6 linked regions of the Homo sapiens genome follow. The main gene of each other region encodes a partner of the protein of the gene in region 6 in a complex. Each region holds a gene or a part of one and is shown on either strand. Other genes may lie near its edges. The genes, in order: DPF3, ARID1A, SMARCD1, PHF10, ACTL6B and SMARCC2.

Region 1 (4,702 bases), on a different chromosome or scaffold from region 6:
TGTGCCTATGTTTTATTTGGTAGGTATTTGATCTCATTGATTATTTTAGTGCTTTGCATTTGATCAATTATATCAATGCTCCATTTTTGGTCTTTGAAAAGGACACTACCTTAAAATTAGTAGCATCACCACGTGTCCAAAAATACCAAAGAGTCAGGAACGTAAAATATACTGTGCTTAATCAGATTCTCAGTCTAGCAAACCAGAAAGGTCTTTCTATTTGTTTTTTAAACTCCATGAGTTGAATTATTTTGAATTTAAAATTGTTGAATTCTGTTTGTTTTCTATCGGAAAGTTATTTTTCTTTAAGTAATATGGTTTTAAAAGATTGGTGCCTGTTCCTCTACACCCCCTTCTTCCTGCAATTTCCCTACTTTTATAGAATGTTTTTTCTGTCCTAGTTTTTGTTTATATGGAGTGTTTCTCTTCTGTTGTAATGGAAAACTGAGTATCTTTGCTGGTGATTTGGGTTCACCTAGAGTGCCTTTGCTGGTGACCTCTGAGAATAAAATGTAGCTAATATGAGTGAGGAGGTTCTAGAAGTGTGATGTCCTCTAGATTCCATGCAGAAGGTTGTTCCAGAGCTACTTCCCTTCTGGAGTGGGACCTCATGCTTCCTAGAACATGGACAGCTCTCTCTTACTGGTGATTCATCCTTGGAAGCCCATGCTCTTTGTTAAAGGAGTTTCTAAGTTGCCTGGTGGATTTGGGATAGAAAATAAAATCTAGTCAAGACCTGACATTGAGTTGCATTCTGCTCATTGGCAAGGCTCTTGGTGCTCATTGCCTTGGTCTTCATAACTGGGAGGTCTTCAGTCTTTCCAGGGAGGTGTGTTTCCCTCTGGGTGTGTTTCCCTCTGGGTGTGTTTCAGTCTTCCCTGGCCTCACCCCTTCACTCTCTGACTCTGGCAGGCTCGGGGACCAGTTCTACAAGGAAGCCATTGAGCACTGCCGGAGTTACAACTCACGGCTGTGTGCAGAGCGCAGCGTGCGTCTTCCCTTCCTGGACTCACAGACTGGGGTGGCCCAGAACAACTGCTACATCTGGATGGAGAAGAGGCACCGAGGCCCAGGTGAGCTGCGCCACTCCTGGGACATGCGCATGTGCAGGCTCCCAGCCTGGAGGGAGGAGGACCGCAGCTTGTCTGGGAAACCAGGCAGCCTGGGTAGGATCGGGGTGGGGCAAGCTGCACATGGGCCTCTGAGATACCTTAAAGAAGCTCAGCTACTTTTATGGCTCCTGGCAGGTGTTTCAAGGAATGTGACAAGGATGGTGTGGGGCATTGAAGCCATGTGGCAGGGGTGGGGTGGGGTGGGGAGTGAAAGAGCTAAAGGTGTTTATCCCAAAGAAGGCAAGACTGAGGACATGACAGCAATCTTCATCTTTTACCTTTGGGTGTTGGTTACAAGCCGGAAATCTGCCATTAGATCTGGGTGTGAGGCTTACCTTTGTCACCAAACTTCTGTCCCTCAGGTTCCTCATCTGTAAAATGTGAATAATAATAGTACTTACCACATAAGATTTCGTCTGAATTAAATGAGAAAATTTATAAAAACTCTTAAATGAGTTTAGCACATAGCAAGTATGTGCTTCCAAAATGCTGGGTATTATTATTATTATTGTTATTTTTTTTTTTTTGAGATGGACTCTTGCTGTGTTGCCCAGGCTGGAGTGCAGTGGTGCGATCTCGACTCACCGCCTCCCGGGTTCAAGTGATTCTCATGCTTCAGCCTCCTGAGTCGCTGGGATTACAGGCGTGCGCCACCACACCCAGCTAGTTTTTGTATTTTTAGTAGAGACGGGGTTTCACCATGTTGGTCAGGCTGTCTCGAACTCCTGATCTCATGATCTGCCTGCCTGGGCCTCCCATAGTGCTGGGATTACAGGCGTGAGCCACTGCACCTGGCCTATTATTATTGATATTACTGTTATTACTACAGCTACAGTGACACTAGTCTTCTAGGCTGCAAAGAACAGAATAAAGACCTTTTTATTAGGGAGACAGCTACAGGAATGTGATTTTTCTGGCTCTGCCTGGATATGTTTTTAAAAATGTTTCATTTGGAAAAATTTCACCTTCATATAAAACTGAAGACAATAGTAAAACACATCCCCATGTAGCCCTGCTTCAACAATGTTCAACTCATGGTCAATCGTGTTTCATCTATACGCACTCCTTACTTTTCTCCCTGACCTCATTTTATTTTGAAGCAAATCCACAAAAGCACGTGATTTCATCTGTAAATATTTTGTTATGTATCTCTAAATGGTAAAGAACTTAAACAAACAAACACACTCACAATCACTATCAGAGCTCAAATAATTAGCAATAAGACTTTAATATCATCAAATATTTGGCCAACATTCATTTTTCCCCCTGTAGTTTAAATCAGGATCCAAATGGGAACCCTACATTGCAACTGGTTAATGTGTCTTTTAACATCTCTGGGTTTCTCTCTGTCTCTGCCTCTCTCTCTTTCCTCCTTGCATGTTACTTGTTGAAGACACTGGGTTGCTTACGCTGTAGGGTTTCCCAGAAGGATTTGGTTGCGTTCCCATGGTGTTATTACTGTGAATTGGTAGTTAGGTCTAGAGATTTATTCAGGTTCCATTTTTTTTTGGTAAGAACAACTCCTGAGTGGTAGTGTGTACTTTCATCAAGAGGCTCATACAGTCTGGTTACCTCTTTTACTGATGTTAGCAGCCCTTCATGATAATTGCCTAGATTCTTTATCCCATTAAGGGTTGCAAAAAGTTAATATTCAATCCAGGACTATCATTATATCTTCATTTGTTAGCTCTACAACTTCTATAAAGAAAAACATTCCCTCATTAAAATTTTAGTTATTGTGAGATACAGTTCACATATGAAAGGCAGGATAAATGACTTTTTTCCCCTCTATTTACCAGTTTTCAAAATAATGAGTTGGTTCCCTAGCATTCTCCAAAGACGATCAATATAATAATAATTATTTTTTTGAATACCACCAGGAACTCACAGATTTAAACATATTTGATGTATTTTAATCCAGTGTAGCTATTATTCTTATGAGGCTTATCTTGCCTCATCTCTGGCCATTCAGGATTCTGGCCAGTGCTGATGTGTTTTTTTTTTTTTTTTTTTTTGAGATGGAGTCTCACTCAGTAGCCAGGCTGGAGTGCAGTGGCATGATCTCGGCTCACTGCAACCTCTGCCTCCCGGGTTCAAGCGATTCTCCTGCCTCAGCCTCCCGAGTAGCTGGGACTACAGGCACATGCCACCACACCCAGCTAATTTTTGTATTTTTAGCAGAGATGGGGTTTCACCATGTTGGCCAGGATTGTCTTGATCTCTTGACCTCATGATCCGCCTGCCTCGGCCTCCCAAAGTTCTGGGATTACAGGCGTAAGCCACCGTGCCCGGCCCAGTGCTGGTGTTTTGAAACAACCCCAGTAGTTTCTGATGGCCTTCTTGCCATCCTAATATTAGGATGAAATATTTCAAGCTCATCCTGTACACTTCCTCCTCTCCAGGACTGAAATCAGCTATTTCTTGAAGAAATCCTGGCTCCTGTTTGTAGGAAAAGTTACTTAGAGACCGCAGTGCTGTTCATTGCTCCTGGCTTGGTCATTGTTTCTAGGCCTTATCAGTGACTAGAACTAAGAAATAGTATTCATTTGTTTTTTTCTTTTTCTTTTTAAGAGAAAATACATTATGAAATTATGTTGATACATCCCATTCAATTTAGATTTAAACAGTTTTTACTTAAGTATCTTAATTCTGTATCTCCTTTCTCCTACACCAAAAAATCCTAGAAATGATATTGATGTAATTACTTATTTGCTTTATTTTACACACACACACACACACACACACACACACACACACACAGACACTCACACACAGTATCAGAACAAACAATATGACTATTAACAATAAGATTACTGAAAAAGGTTTAAGATATTTTCTTTTTTTTGCAAGTCTTTTTGTCCTTAGGGTATATTCCATTAAACATGTGCAGCCAAATTACTCTCCTTTAAGGTCACTGAGATAGTTCCTCTGTGTGATTGTGCCACTAACTCAATACACAGTTGGATTTATTTGTTTCATTTTGCTTTCACTTATCAGGGTTTGCTTTTTGAGTGGGGAGGGGATTCATATAATTTCTTCTTTATTAAATCAACTTTTATCTTGAAATAATTAATAATTGCAATTGTGACTGTATTTGCAATTTGCAGTTGCAAATATAATAGAGATCCCCTATCTTCTTCATCCAATTTCCTCCAAGATTAATACATCTTACAATATCAAAACCAAAAAACTGACATTGGTAAAATGTGTATATGTAGCTTTATGCCATTTTATCACATGTCTAGATTTGTGTAACCACTTCTACAATCAAGATACAAAACTATTCTATTACCACCCAACACTCATTATTTAAATCCTTTTACCCTCCTCCCTTTATAATATAGTTGTCTTAAGCATTTCCTTTACATACATTGAAAACCATACCAGTGTTATAATTTTTACTTCAACCATCAAACATAATTTAGAAAACGTAAGAGAAGCGTTTATTGTATTTACTCATATTTTTACTCCTTCGTTGTTTTTCTTACTTACTGAAGTTCCAAGATTCCTTCTTTTAGCATTTACTTTCTGATGTAGTACTTTCTTTAGCCATTCTTTTAGAGTAAATCTGATGGTAACAACTTCTTAGT
Region 2 (4,702 bases), on a different chromosome or scaffold from region 6:
TATCTACTGCTGGGAATGGTAACTATTGGAAACATTAATTACTAGTAGTTTTGTACTCATCAGCTTAGAAGAACATTTGAAGTTGAGGAGTGACACCATGCTGGATGCTTTAGAACAGGAGCTCCTAGACTCCTAAAATGCATCCCAGATTTGGGACCCCCTTCCCACCCAGGACTTGGGAGGCTCTGACTGGAGCTCATGCACCAGCATTACAGGGTTTAGTAGGTTAGACAAGGTCCTTTGGCGGAGTGAAGAGAAATAGCCAGGGAAGCTGGCAATGACTCAGGGAATCACCAGCATGGTGATGTCATGGCCACATCACTCCTCTTTTCTACACGTAAAACAAAAACAAAGAGCTACAAAACCCTCAGATTCCCGTCTTTATGACCTGGCCTTGTAGATCCTCTGCTAAGAAGGGTGATCAGGCTTTAAAGGCCTTAGGAAGAACTTTCCCAAAGAGATTCTGGGTCGTTCGTGTGTTTGTGTGAGAGTTAAACACTGTCATGCCAAGCAAACTACTCAACTTGTATCTCTGTCCACAGCGGGATCAGGATCTATGCAGGGGCCCCAGACTCCCCAGTCAACCAGCAGTTCCATGGCAGAAGGAGGAGACTTAAAGCCACCAACTCCAGCATCCACACCACACAGTCAGATCCCCCCATTGCCAGGCATGAGGTAAGGCCAAGAGCAGGGGCAGATGGTTGGGAGGATGGCTGAAGATAAGTGCATGGGAACTCCTTGCAGCCCAAGGTGGTCCTTGCCTCTGCCTTCCCAGCCAGTGACTCCTGCGTGTCCTTTGTTATATTGGAGGAATTGGTTTATTTGTGGTTTACTTGGTTTTCCTCACTCTGGAGCAGGAGCAATTCAGTTGGGATCCAGGATGCCTTTAATGATGGAAGTGACTCCACATTCCAGAAGCGGAATTCCATGACTCCAAACCCTGGGTATCAGCCCAGTATGAATACCTCTGACATGATGGGGCGCATGTCCTATGAGCCAAATAAGGATCCTTATGGCAGCATGAGGAAAGGTGACTGATCTGATTGCTATTTGAACTTGTGCTCGTAAAGACAGGGCCAGTGAAATGGGGGGAAATCTTGAGAATGGCTCAGGGTTCTTGTGGAGCCATCCTCTGAGATAATGCATTTCCTGCCCTAACTACCCCTCTTCATCCTTACCTCCTTTCTTGTCTTCTCCTTGGCTTCACCTTGTCATCCCTTAATAAGTACATGCTTTTCGCTGGTTGGGGCCTCTTTAGATCTCTGTTTTGAACTTGTCTGGAAAACAATGAGATCAAACCTGAACTCTGAAGAGGGCCTGGGTCAAAGGGTAGATTACCAGGCTTGTCAACTTACCAGTTTGTTCACCGCTTGCCTTTCTACGCTCAGCTCCAGGGAGTGATCCCTTCATGTCCTCAGGGCAGGGCCCCAACGGCGGGATGGGTGACCCCTACAGTCGTGCTGCCGGCCCTGGGCTAGGAAATGTGGCGATGGGACCACGACAGCACTATCCCTATGGAGGTCCTTATGACAGAGTGAGGTAAGCATGACCCCAGCTCCTGTCCACTCCCCCAGCACCCTGAAGCTATAGTGGGCTCAATCTGCCTCTCCAATTTTGTTTAGGACGGAGCCTGGAATAGGGCCTGAGGGAAACATGAGCACTGGGGCCCCACAGCCGAATCTCATGCCTTCCAACCCAGACTCGGGGATGTATTCTCCTAGCCGCTACCCCCCGCAGCAGCAGCAGCAGCAGCAGCAACGGTGAGTAAAGCCTGGTCTCGGTGCTGCTATGGATCAGGCTTCGCCACTGCCCACCCTAATCCTGTGTTTCTTTGCCTCCTATAGACATGATTCCTATGGCAATCAGTTCTCCACCCAAGGCACCCCTTCTGGCAGCCCCTTCCCCAGCCAGCAGACTACAATGTATCAACAGCAACAGCAGGTGAGGAGGGTAGCTGGGAATGGACTGGCATGCAGGTTCGCCTTGAAAACTAGTTAGTAAACTAATCTAACGTGTTGAAGTCTAAGAAGCTCACTTTAGATATTTTGGCATTCTTCTCTCACCTGACTGGCCAGTCCTGCCTGAAGAGCCACGTCCTCAATCTCTTCTCTATTTGGAGTTGGAAGGGGCTAGAAATAGACCTTATTTTGATTTTTAGGTTTTGTATATTTTTCTACTTAAGCAAGGGAAGGGAAGAAAGAGTGGTGGTTGCTTTTGGAAACAACTTCAAAAGACAATTTGTTAAGGTGATTCCCATGTTTTCTTGGAGTCTGTGTCCACCAAGCATCTGGTTGTAGCCATCTTGGCATCTGTGGGCTTTATGTCCCTGAGTGCAGAGTATTAACTTCCCCTCTGCTTGTCTCTGCCTTAGAATTACAAGCGGCCAATGGATGGCACATATGGCCCTCCTGCCAAGCGGCACGAAGGGGAGATGTACAGCGTGCCATACAGCACTGGGCAGGGGCAGCCTCAGCAGCAGCAGTTGCCCCCAGCCCAGCCCCAGCCTGCCAGCCAGCAACAAGCTGCCCAGCCTTCCCCTCAGCAAGATGTATACAACCAGTATGGCAATGCCTATCCTGCCACTGCCACAGCTGCTACTGAGCGCCGACCAGCAGGCGGCCCCCAGAACCAATTTCCATTCCAGTTTGGCCGAGACCGTGTCTCTGCACCCCCTGGCACCAATGCCCAGCAAAACATGCCACCACAAATGATGGGCGGCCCCATACAGGCATCAGCTGAGGTTGCTCAGCAAGGCACCATGTGGCAGGGGCGTAATGACATGACCTATAATTATGCCAACAGGCAGAGCACGGGCTCTGCCCCCCAGGGCCCCGCCTATCATGGCGTGAACCGAACAGATGAAATGCTGCACACAGATCAGAGGGCCAACCACGAAGGCTCGTGGCCTTCCCATGGCACACGCCAGCCCCCATATGGTCCCTCTGCCCCTGTGCCCCCCATGACAAGGCCCCCTCCATCTAACTACCAGCCCCCACCAAGCATGCAGAATCACATTCCTCAGGTATCCAGCCCTGCTCCCCTGCCCCGGCCAATGGAGAACCGCACCTCTCCTAGCAAGTCTCCATTCCTGCACTCTGGGATGAAAATGCAGAAGGCAGGTCCCCCAGTACCTGCCTCGCACATAGCACCTGCCCCTGTGCAGCCCCCCATGATTCGGCGGGATATCACCTTCCCACCTGGCTCTGTTGAAGCCACACAGCCTGTGTTGAAGCAGAGGAGGCGGCTCACAATGAAAGACATTGGTAAGGAGATCTTCCTCATTCGGTTGCCTAATCTGCCCCTTTCCATCTTGTCCATTGTTCCCTCCACCTTACTATTCTGGATGAGGTTGAATCTGGTCCAGTGTTGACTAAAATAGAACCAAAGAACTTTGGAAAAGGAAGAAATAAGCTAACTAAAGGTTCTCCTTCATTGCCATGCAATGAAGTCCTAGACAGACAGCTTAGAAGCCATGAGGGGCTGGTGTGTTTCATCTCCCAGACAGAAACTGCCTTCCACCTTGTGTTATCTTCAGAGTAGCTTCACTGATGGGGCAGCCCTAGGGGTGCCTCCAGCCAACCTGGGCTTGGTGGATAGACGACATGGAGGTTTATTTCAGGAACCCCGGAGGCATGGCGGGTAATGATGTCCCTCAAGTCTGGTCTCCTGGCAGAGAGCACATGGGCATTAGATACCATCAACATCCTGCTGTATGATGACAACAGCATCATGACCTTCAACCTCAGTCAGGTGAGTATCAGTGCCTGGGGAAGATTGAGAGGGTTTGGGATCTTCTTAGTGTAGACAATGGGAATGTCTCATCTTTAGCCACCTTGGTCTTTCTCTTTCTCTCTTGTAGATATCTTCCATGCCAGTACTTTGCTTCCTTTGCCTCTGGGCACGGGCCCAGGATTTTGACAGCAATAATAATTTGTTTACATGATAACCTTAACACAGGATTGACTTCAAAAGGAATTTGGGAGACACTTTGTGGTATTAGTAAGAATTCAGATTCAATCGATGCCAGTGGGGACACCACATTTTCTAGAAGAATCTGTGTTTTTTTGTTTTTTTAATAGAGACGAGGTCTCACTATGTTGCCGAGGTTCATGAACTCCTGAGTTCAAGTGATCCTCCCAAAGTGCTAGGATTACAGGCATGAGCCACCAGGCCCAGCCTGAATCTGTGGTCAAATTTTTATCAGTGAGCAGAGTATGTTTTTTCCATTTTTCCCTTTCTTCTCTGAACAGTAGGGGCCTTTGTTGATCCCAGTTTTCCTTAGATGTAGAGTGGATGGGGGATTTGATTGTTTAACAATATTCTTTTTTTTTTTTTTTTGACTGAGTCTCTCTGTCGCCCAGGCTGGAGTGCAGTGGCGCTATCACAGCTCACTGCAACTTCCGCCTCCTGGGTACATGCCATTCTCCTGCCTCAGCCTCCCAAGTAGCTGGGACTACAGGCGCCCGCCACCACGCTCGGCTAATTTTTTGTATTTTTAGTAGAGACGGGGTTTCACCGTGTTAGCCAGGATGGTCTCGATCTCCTGACCTCGTGATCCAGCCGCCTCAGCCTCCCAAAGTGCTGGGATTACAGGCGTGAGCAACCGCGCCCGGCCCTACAATATTCTTACAAAGCTGATTCTTCAGACCCACCCTCCATAGGATGTGCACACTAGTGGAGGTGCTGGAAAGAGTTTGTGCTG
Region 3 (4,135 bases), 6.1 Mb from region 6:
CCTCCACTTCCTGGGTTCAAGCGATTCTCCTGCCTCAGCCTCCCAAGTAGCTGGGATTACAGTCACCCACCATCACACCCGGCTGATTTTTGTATTTTTAGTAGAGACGAGGTTTCACCATGTTGGCCAGGCTGGTCTCCAACTCCTGACCTCAAGTGATCTGCCCGCCTCAGCCTCCCAAAGTACTGGGATTACAGGCGTGAGCCACCACGCCCAGCCCATAGTACCTATTTTAATCAGGTTGCTATGACGATTAAATGAGGGAGTGTGTGTAAAGACTTGAGACTGTATCTGGCACATAAAAACAACAAATGGTAACTTCTGCTACTATTATTGTTATCTGGGTTGTTATTACTAGACGCAGTCCTTGCAAATAAAGCCAAAAGTGCTTTGGGAACATGAAGGAGAAAGGGAGGCTTTGCTGGAAGAGTTGATGCCCCAACTAAATCTTTTCTTTTTTTTTTTTGAGATGGAGTCTTGCTCTGCCGCTCAGGCTGGAGTGCAATGGCATGATCTTGGCTCACTACGACCTCCGCCTCCTGGGTTCAAGCAATTCTCCTGTCTCAGCCTCCTGAGTAGCTGGGACTACAGGCACCTGCCACTACGCCCGGCTAATTTTTGTATTTTTAGTAGAGACGGAGTTTCACCATATTGGTCAGGCTGGTCTTGAACTCCTGACCTCAGGTGATCCACCCGCTTCGGCCTCCCAAAGTGCTGGGATCACAGGCGTGAGCCACCGCGCCCGGCCCCAACTAAATCTTGAAGGACAAAGTGGGTGTTAATGAAAGGGCAAAAAGGATAGTAGTGCTGGGGGCATAGGAGGCAGAAGACGTTCCAGAAAGAGGGAATAGGGCATGTAAAGGTCCAGAGAAGAGAGAGAGAGCCTGGTGTCTTAAAGAAGTACGAGCCATTTAGTATGCTAGATGCAGCATAGAGTGCCGAGGACGGGATGTTTTGGGAAGGAAAGCTAGATAGGGAGCCAGATGCCTAATTATGAAGAACCTTTGATTCAGGGAAAACTGGTTTATGTTTCATCCCGAAGACTGTGTAAGACAGCTGGTTGAGAGATCATTACCAGTGGAGGGACTGATGCTATTTGTATATAGAATGATCACTTGCAGGAAGGTGGATGGAGAATAATTTGTCAAGAGGGCAGGGCTGGAGGCAGGAAGCCCAGTTAGGAGGCTGGTGCAGTAATCCATGTGAGACGTGTTGAGGCCCTAAATTTACAGTCCCGACAGTGAGGGTGGAGATAAGTAGATAGATTTGAGAGGTGTCAAGGTGGAATTGAAGGAATTTGGCCACTGTTTGGATTATTAGAGTGAGGGATGAATGAGAAGGAAATGTTATGATGCCTCCCAGGTCTCTAGCTTGGGTGGACAGTAGTATTTACTATGACTGGGAAGAGGGGAGGAGGAGGAGCAGGTATTGGAGAAACGGTAGTGAGTTTAATGTCAAGTTTAAGCAGTTGGATTGGTTGGAGTATAGAAGATAGACTCTGGGCTGCAGACTGGGGACTCATTACCCTGTCACTGGTAATGGAAGATATACAAGTCAAAGAAATTGCCGGGAGGAGTATGCAGAATGAGAAGAGAGTTGAGAACAAAACCCAGAGATGAGAGCTTATGAGACAGCCCCATATGCCAGTCCTTTTCTTCCTGAGAACACTTTTGGACCCATTTGTGCTGTGGAGTAAGTATTCATCATGTAGCTTTGCCCATAGTGGGCAATGTGGAGACCAAAAGGAAAGCTTTCCTCACATGGGGTATACAGAGAGACAGAAACAAGGGCAAATTACTTGCTGAAAGAATGCCAAGGGTCGGAGCAGTTGGAGCTCTATATGATGGTGCCAGCTGTGGGCAGCATGGTGACTAGGTTGGAAGTGGCATGTGGAGTTGTCAGGCACCACCTGCCATTTAACTTCTCATTTTTCTAGTTTGAAAATGGTATGAGCTTCGTTCTTCCTTTCAGATCCATGAGACAATAGAAACCATCAACCAGCTGAAGACTCAGCGGGAGTTCATGCTGAGCTTTGCCAGAGACCCTCAGGGTTTCATCAATGACTGGCTTCAGTCCCAGTGCAGGGACCTCAAGGTAAAGAACCTAGGAGAGGTCTGAAGGGACTTAGGTCAGTGAGGTGCACAGCTGCTTTATTCATGTAGCAGCTGGTAGGAGACCCAGAGGAAGGAGTGAGGGGCCAGATTTTTCTTTAGCATGTTCCAGGGTCCATTTTGCAATTAAGCAGGGAAATGGGGGCAGAGCCATCAAGTGTTGATTTAGTGCTTACTTTGTCTGTCACTGTGCTTCATCTTGTCAGGGATACAGAGTGGAAGACCTGATCTCTGCTTTCAAAGCAGCCTACATTCTGTCTGAAGAAACTAGGCTAGTATAGCCGGGCATGGTGGCTCACACCTGTAATCCCAGCACTTTGGGAGGCCGAGGCCGACGGATCGCTTGAGGTCAGGAGTTTGAGACCAGCCTGGCCAACATGGCGAAACCCCGTCTCCACTAAAAATACAAAAACTTAGCTGGGCGTGGTGGTGCGCGCCTGTAATCCCAGCTACTTGGGAGGCTAAGGCAGGAGAATTGCTTGAACCCAGGAAGCAGAGGTTGCAGTGAGCCAAGATCGTGCCGCTGCACTCCAGCCTGGGTGACAGAGCGAAACTCTGTCTCAAAAAAAAGAAACTAGGCTAGTATGATACAAAGTAGTAAACCACATAAGACATTATCAGGCCAGGTGCGGTGGCTCACGCCTGTAATCCCAGCACTTTGGGAGGCTGAGGAGGGCAGATCACCTGAGGTCAGGAGTTTGAGACTAGCCTGGCCAACATGGTGAAACCCCATCTCTACTAAAATAAAAAAATCAGCCAGGCGTGGTGGCGGGTGCCTGTAATCCCAGCTACCCAGGAGGCTGAGGCAGGAGAATCGCTTGAACCTGGGAGGTAGAGGCTGCAGTGAGCCGAGATTGCGCCACTGCACTCCCAGCCTGGCTGACAGAGTGAGACTCCATCTCAAAAAAAAAAAAAAAAAAAAAGACATTATTAGACTGACCAGGACCAATAAGATGATTCAGATAAGGGAGATCAGTGAGACTAGAATCTCTGGGGAAGGCTTCATGGAAAATTTGGGATTTGAAGACGTTCCCAGAAAGGGGAGCACAGTAAGCTCAGACAAGAAGATAGGAATGGGCACAGAGTATGAACTCATCCGTTGTCACCCCTCCTGTGCTGACTGTGACGAGTTAGAGAGGCTGAGCAGAGGAGCAAGGAAAAAGGGATGCCAGGAAAGATCCCTGAACAAGGCAACGACTTGTTGATTGCAGAGGTGACTGGGTGTTGTATCAGTTTGCTGAGGCTGCTGTAGCAAACTACCACAAACTGGGCAGTTTCAAACAACAGGCTTGTCTCACAGTTGTGGAGGCTGGAAGTCCAAAATCAGTGTGGGCAGCACTGCTTCCTTCCGCGAGCTGGGAGGGAGACTCTGTTCTGTGCATCTCTCAGCTTCTGGTACCTCAGGCATTCCTTGGCTTGTAGGTGGTGGTCTCTGTGTGACTTCACGTTGTCTTCCTTCTGTATGTGTCTGTCTCCATGTCTAAATTTCCCCTCTTTATAAGGGAACCTACCGGTCATATTAGGGGGTACTCTAATGACCTCATCTTAACTTGAGCATCTGTAGAGACCCTATTTCCAAATAAGGTCACATTCACAGGTACTAGGGGTTGGTTAGACTTCAACATTTTGGGGAAGGATACAATTTACCCAATAATGGGTGTGAAGGAAGGAAACAAGCCTTTTCTCCTCTCTCTTCCTCCACCCTGCATCTCCATTTCCCTCAGACAATGACTGATGTGGTGGGTAACCCAGAGGAGGAGCGCCGAGCTGAGTTCTACTTCCAGCCCTGGGCTCAGGAGGCTGTGTGCCGATACTTCTACTCCAAGGTAAGTACATGGGGTGCACGGGGGAAATTGACAAAAGGCACGGGGTTTTCACCCCTGATGGGGGTCAGTGGTGTTAGATACCAACTTCTGGTTTGTCTCATCTTCCACTCCCTTCACTATTTTCTCCTTAGGTGCAGCAGAGACGACAAGAATTAGAGCAAGCCCTGGGAATCCGGAATACATAGGGCCTCTCCCACA
Region 4 (4,702 bases), on a different chromosome or scaffold from region 6:
GGTTAATAATTCTAAATGAGACTAATAATAGCTACATATCATACTTGCTGTGCGTCCCAAGAGTTTTTAAGAGATTTGCATGTTAATTCTCATAGTAACCATGTGAGGTTGGAACTAGGATTACTTCCATTTCATAAAGAAATTGAGCTACAGAGAGGTCGTATAAGCTACCCAGATCACTCTGCTGTTAAGTAGTGAGCAAGAGATCCACTGCCATTCCTCAGGAGAATAGGCCTTTAAAACAATAATATATAGAACTGAAAGCACCAACTGTCCTCTTAGGTTATAGCTCCTGATATCTCCTAAAATTTTAGCTTTTCGAGGGGGAAGTGGGCGTGCAGTGGTGAGCACGTGGGGACTCTTCCTAAAGCCTTGATTCTTAGCATGGAATCAGTTTTGTGTTTCTCTTTATGTTAACGTAGGTTATCCAGGTACCTCAAGGGAAGTACAAAGTTTTGCCAACAGAGCGAACAAAGGTCAGTTCTTACCCAGTGGCTCTCATCCCCGGACAGTTCCAGGAATATTATAAGAGGTATTTAGTAGTTTTAGTTACAGTTGGTATCGGCTATTGGTAAGGGGTTTCAGAGCCTTTTGTACTTGCCTCCTAACAATTTTGGGGTCTATAGATATCACCGTAAGATATCGTATAGGATTTGTGTTGCTATTCTTCTCTGGTTCTGTGGTAAACAATACCCTGTAGTCAGAATTTGAATATATGCTGGTGAAGTCTAGATGCCTCTGTCTCTGCCCATTCTGTTTGGGTTTGTTAGAGACAGATGCTGGGGGTTCTGTAGCACCTCACTGCTCAGGGTATGTTCCGTGGTCCAAAGCACTGTTATTGCTCAGAAGCTTGTTGGAAATGCAGAATCTCAGGCCCAACTCTAGACCTATGACTCAGAGTCTGCATTTTAACAGATGTCTGTGTGATTCATGTGCAGGTTAGAGTTTGAGAAACACTGACTTTTACTGCAGAGAAGATGAGAGAAGGAGCGGAGAGGGGCAGGCATGGGCAACTGGGTGCCCCAGCCACATTGCTGACCTGGCCTGGCTGCTGCTCCAATATGGACCCTAAATGTTACTTATCTCCTATTCCCAAATTAAATGTAACTGAAAAAAACAGGGCTAACAGATTCTTTTTTTTTTTTTTGAGACAGTCTTGCTCTGTACCCAGGATGGAGTGTGGTAGTGTGATTTCGGCTCACTGCAACCTCTGCCTCCTGTGTTCAAGTGATTCTCCTGCCTCAGCCTCCCAAATAGCGGGACTGCAGGCACATGCCACCACGCCCAGCTAATTATTTGTATTTTTGGTAGAGGTGGGTTTTACCATGTTGGCCAGGATGCTCTTGATCTCTTGACCTAGTGATCCGCCCACCTTGGCCTCCCAAAGTACTCGGATTAAAGGTGTGAGCCACTGTGCCCAGCCCATTTTGTTTTAAAGTCTCAGCTTTTACTTCAACCTTAAGCCTTACTCTGGAACCGTATGTTTTTCATAATATACTATTTTTTAGAGAATAGAATTTAAAATATAGTATCATAACTCACACCATTTGAAAGTCAAATCTTGGGCAGAAATTTTTTAAATAAAAAAAGATTTTTTAAATTCAAATTTAAATCATGAGCAGCAATTTTTTAAAAGTTTTTCTTCAAATTTTTTTTTTTTTTTTTTGAGATGGAGTCTCACGCTGTCGCCCAGGCTGGAGTGCAGTGGCGCGATCTCGGCTCACTGCAACCTCTGCCTCCTGGTTCAAGTGATTCTCCTGCTTCAGCTTCCCGAGTAGCTGGGATTACAGGTGCCCGCCACCTTGCCCAGCTAATTTTCTGTATATTTAGTAGAGACGGGGTTTCACCATGTTGGCCAGGCTGGTCTCGAACTCCTGACCTCAGGTGATCTGCCCACCTTGGCCTCCCGAAATGCTGGGATTATAGGCGTGAGCCACTGCACCCGGCCTTTAATTTTTAAAAATTTTATTTTGGCATCAGCAAATTATTAAAAGTCATATGCAAGTATATTAACCCCTTTGCTTTTTGGTGTGTTGTCTTAGTTGGAGAAGTCTTCATCTAGGGTTGCCTCCTGAATGGGGGCTACTGAGGGTGAGAATGGAGGTGGCACGAAGCAGTGCTGTCTGACCTAGGGGAAGAGATTGCCAATATAGTTTCAGACAAAATAGATGATTAAATTTGTTAGAATACATGCTTCCCAAATTTGTTTACAATAATTGGTTACTAAAAATTTTGCTTTCTATGTTATTATTTTAAGTAATATCATGTACCATGCACTGGTGTGATATGTATGCATTAAATAAGTTAATGCATATATATCAACTGTATGCGGTAGATGCTATTATTAGGTCTGTTTTACAAATGGAGTGACAGCACAGAGAAGTAGCAAAGACCTGGGACAGTGGTCGAGGTGGATGTGAGCTGGCAGCCAGACTTGGGGCTGCTGACATTTTATTTACTTTTTTCTTTTTTTGGGTTGAGGGCAAAGAGGGGAGGCACATTATCTCTTAGTAAGAATCAAATGCATATTTTACATAAGTCTAGTGAAAAGATGTTCAGGCTTTTTATTAACCCTACTTGATGACAAAAATGAAAAATTAGTACTCTAGTTTTCAAAAGTCTTCGGGGTTACTCAAGAAGTTTAAGGCTATCTTCATAGGTCAAAGATGAGTCTGTTTATATTTAATAATAAAGGGAAACCAAAAATAAACTCTCTGAACTTCAGGTACTCACCAGATGAGCTGCGGTATCTGCCATTAAACACAGCCCTGTATGAGCCCCCTCTGGATCCTGAGCTCCCTGCTCTAGACAGTGATGGTGATTCAGATGATGGCGAAGATGGTCGAGGTGATGAGAAACGGAAAAATAAAGGCACTTCGGTGAGAACATTTCTCTCTAGTAGGAAGCATTTCCTTTCTCTTTGAATTTTTGTTACATTGAATTTCTGTCATCACCCTCTCCTTGAAAAAGGATGGTTGCATGTAATTTCCAGAAAGTATTCATCAATAAAAGTTACTTATAGTATGTTTTGATAAAAACAAGCAGTGAATGGCCTTTGGTAAGCTTTATGCTTAAAATCGCCCCTTTGTAGTTACCATGAGCAGTTTAGGCAAGGGTATGGAAAATTAGCTTACAATCATTTATTCAACTTGCTGTCTCTTTAGCTTAAAATATTGAACAAAACAGAATTTGATCTCTTGACACAGAAATGTAGTTTTCTTAGTTGAGGGGAGTGCATTTGCTTAATCTTATGCTTCCTATAGGAAAATATTATGTTTAGTAATATGTTGTACAATTTGTTGGGTTTTCCTGTATGACTTTTTTTTTTGTAGCAAAATGCACCTGCAAGACAGTGGGCAGTTGGTGTATTCTGTGCACCTGAAGGAGAATAAAATCCCAATGATGGTTTGGGGCTTTGATCCCAGTGATGACATAGGGCTTTGAATTTCTTTAGCATTGTGTTTTAAGTAACTGGCTATTTCAAACTTTTCATTGAAGCCAATGTAAATGTGAGATTGTGCTACCATTGAATGGACATTATTTCCTTGTCACCAACAGCTTCTAAAACATCTTTAATAATACATATTATGCAAAATAAGATACTGTTCAAGTATTAAAGTGGTGACACAACTTTTCTCCTGTCATGTTGCTAAAAGGGGAGCTATGGCATGCAAAGGGTGATGAAGCTGACTTCCTTTCATACTGCTAGGAAAAGTGTAAACTAATCCAACATTATGGGAAAGCATTTTGACAGTCTTACCAATTTAAGTTCCATAGTATTTGACCTAGCAAATCCACTAGTAGAATTTATCCTAAGGATTTAATCAGATGCTGAAAAATTTTAATTAGAAAAAAAGGTCCATTTGAGTGTTGACAGTATTTTTTATGCTGGAAGTTACAAATAAATTTTAATGCCCACAGTGGGTAATATTATATTACATTTATAGGATAGAAATGCAGTTCAAAGAATATTTAATGATTGTGAGAAAATGCACATAATGCTTTTAAAAAATACCAAAATACACATATGCATACACACACAGTGTAATCCAGTTTTGTATTTTAAAAAATGAGGGCACAATGAGGTAGGGGGTAATGTGTGAGTCTCGGTATCTTTATGTATATAAGTGGACACCCAGAAAAAAGATAAAGTAGATACATTCATGTTTCTAGTCAGTGTGTGTTTATCAGGGAGGCTCTAGATAACCTAATTTTTTAATTTATAATTTTTGTAATTTATATGAAAGTTCTAATTAGAACATTTTAAATTATAAAATGAAGAATTAAATGATCAGATACTGAGGTCTTAAACCTTGAATATATAAAATATTTCAGATCCTGTTGTAGATAGTTGAGGGATTGGCTCTGCATAGTTTAACATTGTGAAAACACAAATGTGTACTTGAAGGACTTTTTTTTTTTTTTCCTAACTGCAGCGCTTCATTTTTCCTGAAGGACCTTCTTAATGACTTTTAGTACTCAGTGAAAATACCCACACTTATTTGTAACAATATATTTTTGTATGAAACAAATATGTTCCCTTGTGACGGAAAATGATGTTGAAGCTGTGTGCCGTAATAGTAGCTGAAGCGGATAATTGTGTTTTTGTGACTTATGTCAGAAAACAAAGTTGATGAAGGCACTGATATGGAATCAGTTTTATATAATATACTTAGAAGAAGGAGGAATGATTTTTAACATA
Region 5 (5,386 bases), on a different chromosome or scaffold from region 6:
GGCCGGGGAGGGGTGGAGTCTCTTCCAGGGTGGGCATGTGGTGAGCAGAGAACCTTCAGGGGCACGCGGACCTCACATAGTATCCACTTCCTGTGCTATCTCTGGTCTCAAAGCTCCCTCGCCCCCAAACAAGTAGATGGGCATAGTCAACACACACAAGCATTCAGATGTGCATATGTACACACATGCACCCATATGCCAACACACATAGACACATACATACAGACACACACACACCCTCACATAAGAGTCCCTCACCTACCCCAAGTTGTCAGAGCTGCTCCTTTGCCTTTGCTACCAAAACTGTGGTACTGGGAGCCCAGAAGAACCTGGGATCCAAGCAGTAGAAAACCCTGTTGTTAGCCAGGCGCTGTGGCTGACACCTGTAATCCCAGTGACTGAGGAAGCCAAAGTGGGAGGATCACTTGAGGCCAGGAGTTCGAGACCAGACTGGGCAACATAGTTTTTTCTTAAAAAAAAAAAAAAAAAAAAAAAAGCCAGGTGTGGTGGTGTGCACCTGTAAGTCCCAGCTACTCAGGAGGCTGAGGCGAGAGGATCACTTGAACCCAGGAGTTCAAGGTTACAGTGAGCTATAAGTGTGCCACTGCACTCCAGCCTGGGTGACGGAAGACCCTAACTCAAAAAGAAAAGAAACAAAAACCCTCTTGTTGATAAATGCCTCCTCAGGAGAACAGGCGCTGAAGAGAGACAGATGGAGAAAGGAAGCTAAAGCCAGATGGGCTGAATGCCTGTGTGTGAACGTATGTACACATGTGTAAGCATGTGTACACATGTATAAGGCCTAGGTACTGCGGGGGGTGGGGGGGAAAGCAAGGCAAGGAAAAAAGGGGCCAACGAAAGACAAAGGAGGGAAGTTGGACACGGTGGCTCATGCTTTTAATCCCAGCACTTTGGGACTTTGAGGCCAGGAGTTCAAGACCAGCCTGGGCAAGGTAGCAAGACCCAGTCTCTTAAAAAAAAAAAAAAGGTAAAAACAGAGAGAGATGGAGACACACCCCCTTTGGTCCCTCTCTCAATCTTCCCTTCCCTCCCTCTCCCGGTGATTCCATTTAGACCTTGGTGATTCCATTTAGGCCTGGGTGTGGCAGAACCGGGCTCAGAGCAGCCTGAAGATAGATAACCCTTCTGGGAACTGGACCTCTCTCCCCAATCCTGCTTTAAAAAGTAAGGGGGTAGAGGTCGGGCGCAGTGGCTCACGCCTGTAATTCTGGCATTTCGAGAGGCTGAGGTGGGAGGATCGCTTGAGGCCAGGACTTCGAGATCAACCTGGGCAAAAGAGCAAGACCCCGTCTCTATAAAAAATTTTTTTTTAATCCAGGCGTGCTGGCACCTGCCTGTAATCCCAGCTACTTGGGAGGCTGAGGAGGATCGCTTGAGCTCAGGAGTTCGAGACCAGCCTGGGCAACATCACAAGACCTCCGTCTCTACCATAAAAATAAAAATAAAAATAAAAAGCAAGGGGATAGGGACCTCATCAGTCGTCCTGCAGAGTCCTGGTCTCCGCCTCTTCCCTGCTCTCCTCTCTGCCGCCAGTTCCTTAGCGACGGTCTCTAAGTCCCTGCTAGGTGCCCCCTGCCCCATCTCCTCCTGGCCGCTTAATAGAGTGTATCTTCCCCTTTAAAGCAGCTGCCCCCGGTCGGTCATTGTCTCGCCTGGCAGCCAATCGGCGGCGCCGTTGGAGCGGGGGATCCGGCCTCCCAATTGGCCGCTGAGAGTCCCGCCCCGCCAGGGATCCCGGGAGCTGTCCGGCCGCCTCGGTGCTGATCCCGCCACCGCCCACGGGCCGCTAGCAGCGCAGCGGGCACTATGAGCGGGGGCGTCTACGGCGGAGGTGAGCGAGCCTCGGGCCCCCGGCTCCCGCAGCCCTGCGTTCCAAACCCGCGCCATCCATCCGAGCTCTGGGCACCCCGGGGCCTGTCACCTCCGCGCACGAGCGGGTCGAGTCTCAGGCTCGGGTCTCCCGCCACCCCTGCGCTCGGTCCTCCCCAGACGCCCCGCGCGCACAGGGCCCTACCTTGCAACCCACCTCCACCTGGCCCCGGGCCCCTTCCTTTCCCGTCGGGAGGGTGCCCTGAGCAAGGCCATTGGGCAAGAAGGGACCCTGGCGGTGTGATGCCCCCACCCCCAGTCCCAGGACCTCGGACTCCAGGCCCAGCTCCCACCGGCCCCAGACTGGTGTTGAAAGTGGCGAGACTGTGGCTCTGCCCTGACTTTCTCTCGGAGCTACCTAGCGGGAGAGAGTTCGGGGGAGGTCCCCTTACAGGCCTGTCTCCCCGCACAGATGAGGTGGGGGCGCTGGTCTTTGACATTGGCTCCTTCTCAGTCCGCGCTGGGTACGCTGGGGAGGACTGTCCCAAGGTGAGCCTTCCAGTCTCCTCTCCAAATCCTAGGGGCTTCGGACCCTTCTTCAGGCTTTCCAGTGACCCAGGGCTCTCCCAGATCGCCCAGAAGCTCTGCTGAGCGGGAATATGGGAATAAACCCAGGGGCGGTCTGAGGACCCTGCTGTGGGGCTGGACAGGGGCAAGAGGGTGACCTCTCTCCCTGCCAATACTCCCCCAACCCTTCCCCACCAGGCTGACTTCCCCACCACAGTGGGGCTGCTGGCCGCGGAGGAGGGGGGCGGGCTGGAGCTGGAGGGGGACAAAGAGAAGAAAGGGAAGATCTTCCACATCGACACCAATGCCCTGCACGTGCCTCGGGATGGAGCGGAGGTCATGTCGCCCCTCAAGAATGGCATGAGTAAGGGGCCCCCACCCATCACCTCCTGACAGAAAAGGAGCCCGCTCCCCACAATCTGGGTCATAGCAGCCCCCACTCCCCGCGGAGTCTTCCTTGCAGCCCCAGGGTTCTTCTGGCTGCCAGGGTTCTTCTCGCTGGGTTCCCTTCCCAGGGGCCCACCAGGTTTCTGGGAAGGGGGGCGTTCCCCTGGAGCTGGACTCACTGACCCTCCTTTGGGCTTGGCCTTTCTCCCTCCTTTTCTTCCTGTCCCTGTCCCCTGCCTGCCTTCTTGCGTCTCTGCACGCTGCTCTTCTGGCCCCAGTCGAGGACTGGGAGTGCTTCCGAGCCATCCTGGATCACACCTACAGCAAACACGTCAAGTCTGAGCCAAACCTGCACCCAGTGCTCATGTCCGAGGCTCCGGTGAGTGCCTCCTCCATCCTCATGTCCAACCCTGATCTCCACTGCACCTCCTTCCCACCATCCACCTCTCCTCCTCTCCCCTCAAGCCACTGCTCTGAGCCACTTCCCTTCCCTTTTCAGACTCCCCTCACCCATCCCAAACAATTTCCTTCCTTCTTGGCTAAGTCTCCATCCCTCCTGCTCTCTTCTTGCTCTATGCACTCTGCTGCCCTTCTCTGTCTCCAAGTCCTTTTTAAATTTTTTTTTTTTGACACAGTCTCACTCCGTCACCCAGGCTGGAGTGCAATGGTGAGATCTCAGCCTCTGCCTCCCGACATCAAAGGAATCTCCTGCCTCAGCCTCCTGAGTATCTGGGATTACAGGCACCCGCCACCACGCCTGGCTAATTTTTTGTATTTTTAGTAGACAGGGGGTTTCGCCTTGTTGGCCAGGCTGGTCTCGAACTCCTGACCTCAGGTGATCCACCCGCCTTGGCCTCCCAAAGTGTTGGGATTACAGGCATGAGGCACCACGCCCAGCCTCCAAGTCCTTTTTTGACCTTTTCACTTATTATTATTATTATTATTATTATTATTATTATTATTATGGTCAACTTTGGTGAGCTGGGGATGTTGGCTCACACCTGTAATCCCAACACTTTGGGAAGCCAAGGCAGGAGGATCACTTGAGCCCAGGAGTTTGAGACCACCCTAGGCAATATGGCAAGACCCGTCTCTTTTATTAAAACAATAAAAATTAAAAATTTTTTGCCGGGTGTGGTGGCTCACGCCTGTAATCCCAGCACTTTGGGAGGCCGAGGCGGGTGGATCACGAGGTCAAGAGATCAAGACCATCCTGGATAACACGGTGAAACCCCATCTCTACTAAAAATACAAAAAATTAGCCAGGCATGGTGGCGGGCACCTGTAGTCCCAGCTACTCGGGAGGCTGAGGCAGGAGAATGGCGTGAACCCGGGAGGCGGAGCTTGCAGTGAGCTGAGATCGCACCACTGCACTCCAGCCTGGGCAACAGAGCGAGACTCTGTCTCAAAAAAAAAAAAAATTTAAAACCTCATTTAAAAAAATGTTCTTACCCACCTCCTTATAAATTCCTCTTTATAAAAGCAACTGTTTTTCTCCTTTTTAGCTAATGTTGGGGGTATTTTCTTCCATATCTCTAATACTACACTTAAATTGCTGCCTGTGGAGTGTTTAGTTTTAGGTATTATCGCTGAATTTTCCACTTTAGAAAATGATCGCTTAGCTCTCTTTTCCTCCCCAGCCTATGCCACACGTATTTCTTATCACCCTCCTTTAAGTACAGTGGGTTTTGTTGTTGTTGTTGTTGTTGTTTGGGGTTTTGTTTGTTGTTTGTTTTTGAGACTTTGCCTCAAAAACAGGGGGTCTGCTCAGTTTGTCACCCAGGTTGGATTGCAGTGGCACAATTCTTCAGCCTTGGTCTCCTGGGCTCAAGTGATCCTCTCATTTCAGTCTCCAGAGTAGCTGGAACTACAGGCATAAGCCACCATGCCCAGCTGATTTTTAAATTTTTTTTAGAGACAGGGTTTCATCATGTTGTCCAGGCTGGTCTTGAATTCCTGGGCTCAAGCAATCTGCCCGCCTCGGCCTCCCAAAAGGCTGGGATTACAGGCGAGATCCACCACACCCAGCCCAGTTGTATTTTAGACTTTAAAAGAAATCAGTATTCAGTATTTACATTCTTTTTAAATTAGAAATAATTTTAAGAGAATCTTTTGCAGAGATGGGGTCTCATCATATTGCCCAGGCTGGCTTCAAACTCCTGTGCTTAAGCGATCCTTCTACTTCAGCTAACAAAGTGCTGGGATTACAGGCATGAGTCACTGTGCTCAGCCCAATATTTACACTCCTATTACTATGTATGCTAATCAGGCCTGAGACAGGCAATACACCATGATCACCTTTCCTTTCTTGTGCAACTTTTTGTTTTCCTAGAACTGGAAAAAAAATGTGTTCAATTTTTTTTTTTTTTTTTTTTTTTTTTTTTTTTTTTTTTTTTTTGAGACGGAGTTTTGCTCTGTCACCAGGCTGGAGTGCAGTGGTGCGATCTCAGCTCACTGCAAGCTCCGCCTCCCGGGTTCAAGTGATTCTCCTGCCTCAGCCTCCTGAGTAGCTGGGACTACAGGTGCGTGCCACCACGCCCAGCTAATTTTTGTATTTTTAGTAGAGACGGGGTTTCACCATGTTGGCCGGGATGGTCTCGAT
Region 6 (4,702 bases):
GCCAACGACATGTCTTATTAATCATGAAGGGAACATGGAACAGTGGCATGAGTGCCCCCAGAGCTTGTGGGCCGCCCAGCATATGGTCTTGAGGCCTCCAGGGCCTTGGCCTGGTCATTTCCTGCCCAGCCTCCATGACGCCAAGCTCTGTCCCCCAGGGCCGCCAGGTTGATGCTGATACCAAGGCTGGGCGAAAGGGCAAAGAGCTGGATGACCTGGTGCCAGAGACGGCTAAGGGCAAGCCAGAGCTGGTAGGTGGGGTGCAGACCCTGCTGGGCTGCTCATTTTCCCCTTTATTGGGGGGCCCCTGCCCGGGAAGAAGAGACATGAGAGCAGAGGAACTACAGCAGTAAGGGAGGAAGTCCCACCCAGGGGTGTCCCTGGCTTTGGGAAAGAAGCTCCTTCTGTCTGTTTTTTCTCTCTGTCAGCCCCTGGCTCCCGGTGGTCACTTGTACTCACCTGTTTCTTTCCCTCCACAAATAGCAGACCTCTGCTTCCCAACAAATGCTCAACTTTCCTGACAAAGGCAAAGAGAAACCAACAGACATGCAAAACTTTGGGCTGCGCACAGACATGTACACAAAAAAGAATGTTCCCTCCAAGGTAGGAGGTGCGGGCCGACTCTAGGGGTAGAGAATGTTCGCTCCTCAGAGGTCACAGGCTCCTTTCTTCTCACCTGCCTGTGTTTCCCCTGCAGAGCAAGGCTGCAGCCAGTGCCACTCGTGAGTGGACAGAACAGGAAACCCTGCTTCTCCTGGAGGTAATTGGGGCAAAGAAAAGAGAGTTTTTCTCTGAAAACAGAAGTGGGCTCCGTGTAGAGGCTCACGCCTGTAATCCCAGCACTTTGGGAGGCCAAGGCAGGAGGATCACTTGAGTCCAGGAGTTCGAGATGAACCTGGGCAACATAGTGAGACTCCGTCTCTACGAAAAATTTTAAAAATTAGCCAGGTGTGGTGGCACACACCTGTGGTCCCAGCTACTCAGGAGGCTAAGTGGGAGGATTGCTTGAGCCTAGGAGGTCAAGGCTCCAGTGAGCTTCAGGACCAGCTCCAGGCTGGGGATTTGGGCCATTTCATTAACTTCATATCCTTTCTTAGTGCTACTTCAAGATCCCCCTTGGACCTAGCAGAGTACACAAATACCAGAACATAGAGAACTTTGAAACCAGCTGCCCTTAGTAGGATGGGGGGAGTCAGCCTTCGAGAAAAGTGGCTAAGTAAGCGGAGTTATGTCTCCACCACTACCACCAGGCACTGGAAATGTACAAAGATGACTGGAACAAAGTGTCCGAGCATGTGGGAAGCCGCACACAGGACGAGTGCATCTTGCATTTTCTTCGTCTTCCCATTGAAGACCCATACCTGGAGGACTCAGAGGCCTCCCTAGGCCCCCTGGCCTACCAACCCATCCCCTTCAGTCAGTCGGGCAACCCTGTTATGAGCACTGTTGCCTTCCTGGCCTCTGTCGTCGATCCCCGAGTCGCCTCTGCTGCTGCAAAGTCAGCCCTAGGTAATGGGGGTGGGTGGTTCCACCTGGCCTTCTTAGTTTGCTTTTGAAGGGCTAGTTACTCAGACTGTGAATCCTCTCAAGTTTGGCTGCCCTGCTGGCCTTGTCTGTGCGGGCCTCAGCTCAGGCACCTGTCTAGGCTCCATACTAGCTTAGATGAAGACATGGGCTTGTGAGTAAGCTTTTGCAGGGATTGCCAGAACTGTTCCACTGTGCCGCTCCCAGCCTCATTCTTTCTGGGTCTTGCAGAGGAGTTCTCCAAAATGAAGGAAGAGGTACCCACGGCCTTGGTGGAGGCCCATGTTCGAAAAGTGGAAGAAGCAGCCAAAGTAACAGGCAAGGCGGACCCTGCCTTCGGTCTGGAAAGCAGTGGCATTGCAGGAACCACCTCTGATGAGCCTGAGCGGATTGGTAAGGCCAGGCAGGTTCCCAGATTTCTTGCCTTTCACAAGATCCAGAGCTACCTGGCCTCCTGTGCCATTTCTGCCTCAAGTTGGCATTAGAGCACAACATGAATGAGAACATTGGTAGGGTTTTTATTTTCCCCATGAGTTTACCTCAGGGGCTCTGGAGCCCTACTAGTCCTCTCATGAAGATTTTGGGTAGAAAAATCTTTGCTTGTAGAAGGGGCTGTTAGAAAAGTCTTGTGAAGGCCGGGCGCAGTGGCTCATGCCTGTAATCTCAGCACTTTGGGAGGCCGAGGTGGGTGGATCACGAGGTCGGGAGTTCAAGACCAGCCTGGCCAAGATGCTGAAACCCTGTCTCTACTAAATATACAAAAATTAGCTGGGCGTGGTGGCACGTGCCTGTAATCCCAGCTACTTCAGAGGCTGAGGCAGGAGAATCACTTAAACCTGGGTGCCAGAGGTTGCAGTGAGCCAAGATCAAGCCACTGCACTCCAGCCTGGGCAACAGAGCAAGACTTCGTCTCTCAAAAAAAAAAAAAAAAAAAAAAAAGTCTTGTGAAGGCTGGGTGCAGTGGCTCATGCCTGTAATCCCAGTACTTTGGGAGGCTGAGGTGGGCAGATGGTTTGAGACCAGTCTGGGCAACATGGCAAAATCCCGTCTCTACAAAAAATACCAAAAAAGTTAGCCAGGCATGGTGGCATGCGCCTGTAGCCCCAGATACACAGGAGGCTGAGGTGAGAGAACCACTTGAGCCTGGGAAGTCAAGGCTGCAGTGAGCCATGATTGTGCTACTGCACTCCAGCCTGGGCGACAAGAGTGAGACCCTGTCACAAAAAAACAAAAAACAAAAAAAAACAGGTGTTATGGAGAAGCTGGGTGCAACGGCTCACACCCATAGTCCAAGCTGCTCAGGAGGCTGAGGTGGGAGGATTGCGTGGGCCCAGGAGTTTGAGACCAACCTGGGCAACACAGCAAGACCCTGTCTCTAAAAAAAAAGAAAAGTGTTAGACACAGACGACTGTGTATTAAACATTTCCTGTTTTCTTTCTTTTCTCATGGGCCCAGAGGAGAGCGGGAATGACGAGGCTCGGGTGGAAGGCCAGGCCACAGATGAGAAGAAGGAGCCCAAGGTATAGAGGGATTTCTGGAAGCTGCAGGGGCTGCGTGCAGCACTGTGGTGATGGGGAAGTTGGCCTTGTTCAGCTTAGGTGGGCAAGGGCTGGTTTTGGACGGGGTTGTCTCCTAGAATCAGATCACCTCCAAAGTAAGAGGAATAAATTTAGTTCCCCGTCTGGCCCCTCTGTGTGAGAACTAATCACCCTAATCCCTGATAACTCTCCTTTTCTATCACTGGAATTTCAGGAACCCCGAGAAGGAGGGGGTGCTATAGAGGAGGAAGCAAAAGAGAAAACCAGCGAGGCTCCCAAGAAGGATGAGGAGAAAGGGAAAGAAGGCGACAGTGAGAAGGAGTCCGAGAAGAGTGATGGAGACCCAATAGGTGAGCCTCCCACAAGGGTAGGTGGGGGTGCAGGACAGAGGTGAAGCTGTGGGGCTAACTCAACCCTTGTCCTGGCCCAGTCGATCCTGAGAAGGAGAAGGAGCCAAAGGAAGGGCAGGAGGAAGTGCTGAAGGAAGTGGTGGAGTCTGAGGGGGAAAGGAAGACAAAGGTGGAGCGGGACATTGGCGAGGGCAACCTCTCCACCGCTGCTGCCGCCGCCCTGGCCGCCGCCGCAGTGAAAGCTAAGGTGAGGCCAGACCTTGAAGACCTCAGGGAAGAAAATGTCCACTTCTCTAATCTCATCTCACTTAGAGGAAATCTTTCCTCACTCACACCTTAAATAATGCTGACCTATTTATTTTTTATTTTTATCTCAGGAGGAGGTAAAGTTAGTCATCCCTTCTCTAAGCTTTAAAAAATATATCACCATTGGGCCTGTTTTCAACCCTGTCAGTATTTGACTCCATGTTACCCTTTGCCACACTATCTCCATGTTCTTCTTTTGAGACGGAGTCTTGCTCTGTCAGATCTCGGCTCACTGCAGCCTCCACCTCCCAAGTTCAAGTGATTCTCCTGCCTCAGCCTCCCGAGTAGCTGGGACTACAGGCGTGCTACACCACGCCTGGCTAACTCTTTGTATTTTTAGTAGAGATGGGGTTTCACCATGTTGGCCAGGCTGGTCTTGAACTCCTAACCTCAGGTGATCCACCCGCTTTGGCCTCCCAAACTGCTGGAATTACAGGCGTGAGCCACCGTGCCCAGCCTCCATGCTTGTTTATTTATTTATGTATTTTTTGAGATGGAGTCTCACTCTGTTGCCCAGGCTGGAGTGCAGTGGCACAATCTCGGCTCACTGCAACCTCCACCTCCCAGGTTCAAGCGATTCTCCCACCTCAGCCTCCCAAGTAGCTAGGATTACAGGCACGTGCCAGCATGCCCGGTTAATTTTTGTATTTTTAGCAGAGATGGGGTTTCACCCTGTTGCCCCAGGCTGGTCTCAAACTCCTGGACTCAAGTGATCTGCTCGCCTTAGCCTCCCAAAGCGCTGGGATTACAGGCATGAGCCATCACACCTGGCCAAAATAATTTAATTTTTTAAAAAGGCTGGGCGCAGTGGCTCACGCGTGTAATCCCAGGACTTTGGGAGGCTGAGGCAGGTGGATCACCTGAGGTTGTAAGTTTGAGACCAGCCTGGCCAACATGGTGAAACCCCATCTCTACTAAAAACACAGAAATTAGCCGGCGTGGTGGCGCATGTCTGTAATCCCAGGTACTGGGGAGGCAAAGGCA

Evidence for each region.
Region 1: SMARCC2 (region 6) and DPF3 share a complex: the UniProt entries of both Homo sapiens proteins name them as parts of the BAF complex.
Region 2: SMARCC2 (region 6) and ARID1A share a complex: the UniProt entries of both Homo sapiens proteins name them as parts of the neuron-specific chromatin remodeling complex.
Region 3: SMARCC2 (region 6) and SMARCD1 share a complex: the UniProt entries of both Homo sapiens proteins name them as parts of the BAF complex.
Region 4: SMARCC2 (region 6) and PHF10 share a complex: the UniProt entries of both Homo sapiens proteins name them as parts of the neural progenitors-specific chromatin remodeling complex.
Region 5: SMARCC2 (region 6) and ACTL6B share a complex: the UniProt entries of both Homo sapiens proteins name them as parts of the BAF complex.

The regions. Positions count from the first base shown.
Region 1 is NC_000014.9:72,768,104-72,772,805, reverse strand, and holds part of DPF3 (zinc finger protein DPF3), read left to right. Parts: intron 1-912; coding exon 913-1,073; intron 1,074-4,702. UniProt on the Homo sapiens protein: Belongs to the neuron-specific chromatin remodeling complex (nBAF complex).
Region 2 is NC_000001.11:26,771,958-26,776,659, forward strand, and holds part of ARID1A (AT-rich interactive domain-containing protein 1A), read left to right. Parts: intron 1-542; coding exon 543-675; intron 676-854; coding exon 855-1,030; intron 1,031-1,388; coding exon 1,389-1,539; intron 1,540-1,622; coding exon 1,623-1,760; intron 1,761-1,844; coding exon 1,845-1,941; intron 1,942-2,371; coding exon 2,372-3,263; intron 3,264-3,619; coding exon 3,620-3,750; intron 3,751-4,702. UniProt on the Homo sapiens protein: Involved in transcriptional activation and repression of select genes by chromatin remodeling (alteration of DNA-nucleosome topology).
Region 3 is NC_000012.12:50,094,879-50,099,013, forward strand, and holds part of SMARCD1 (SWI/SNF-related matrix-associated actin-dependent regulator of chromatin subfamily D member 1), read left to right. Parts: intron 1-1,971; coding exon 1,972-2,094; intron 2,095-3,835; coding exon 3,836-3,937; intron 3,938-4,068; coding exon 4,069-4,122; 3' UTR 4,123-4,135. UniProt on the Homo sapiens protein: Involved in transcriptional activation and repression of select genes by chromatin remodeling (alteration of DNA-nucleosome topology).
Region 4 is NC_000006.12:169,710,563-169,715,264, reverse strand, and holds part of PHF10 (PHD finger protein 10), read left to right. Parts: intron 1-422; coding exon 423-532; intron 533-2,725; coding exon 2,726-2,879; intron 2,880-4,702. UniProt on the Homo sapiens protein: Involved in transcription activity regulation by chromatin remodeling. Belongs to the neural progenitors-specific chromatin remodeling complex (npBAF complex) and is required for the proliferation of neural progenitors.
Region 5 is NC_000007.14:100,652,796-100,658,181, reverse strand, and holds the start of ACTL6B (actin-like protein 6B), read left to right. Parts: upstream 1-1,733; 5' UTR 1,734-1,827; coding exon 1,828-1,852; intron 1,853-2,302; coding exon 2,303-2,379; intron 2,380-2,595; coding exon 2,596-2,761; intron 2,762-3,062; coding exon 3,063-3,163; intron 3,164-5,386. UniProt on the Homo sapiens protein: Involved in transcriptional activation and repression of select genes by chromatin remodeling (alteration of DNA-nucleosome topology).
Region 6 is NC_000012.12:56,168,486-56,173,187, reverse strand, and holds part of SMARCC2 (SWI/SNF complex subunit SMARCC2), read left to right. Parts: intron 1-158; coding exon 159-251; intron 252-483; coding exon 484-603; intron 604-697; coding exon 698-760; intron 761-1,250; coding exon 1,251-1,509; intron 1,510-1,755; coding exon 1,756-1,917; intron 1,918-2,979; coding exon 2,980-3,044; intron 3,045-3,276; coding exon 3,277-3,412; intron 3,413-3,492; coding exon 3,493-3,659; intron 3,660-4,702. UniProt on the Homo sapiens protein: Involved in transcriptional activation and repression of select genes by chromatin remodeling (alteration of DNA-nucleosome topology).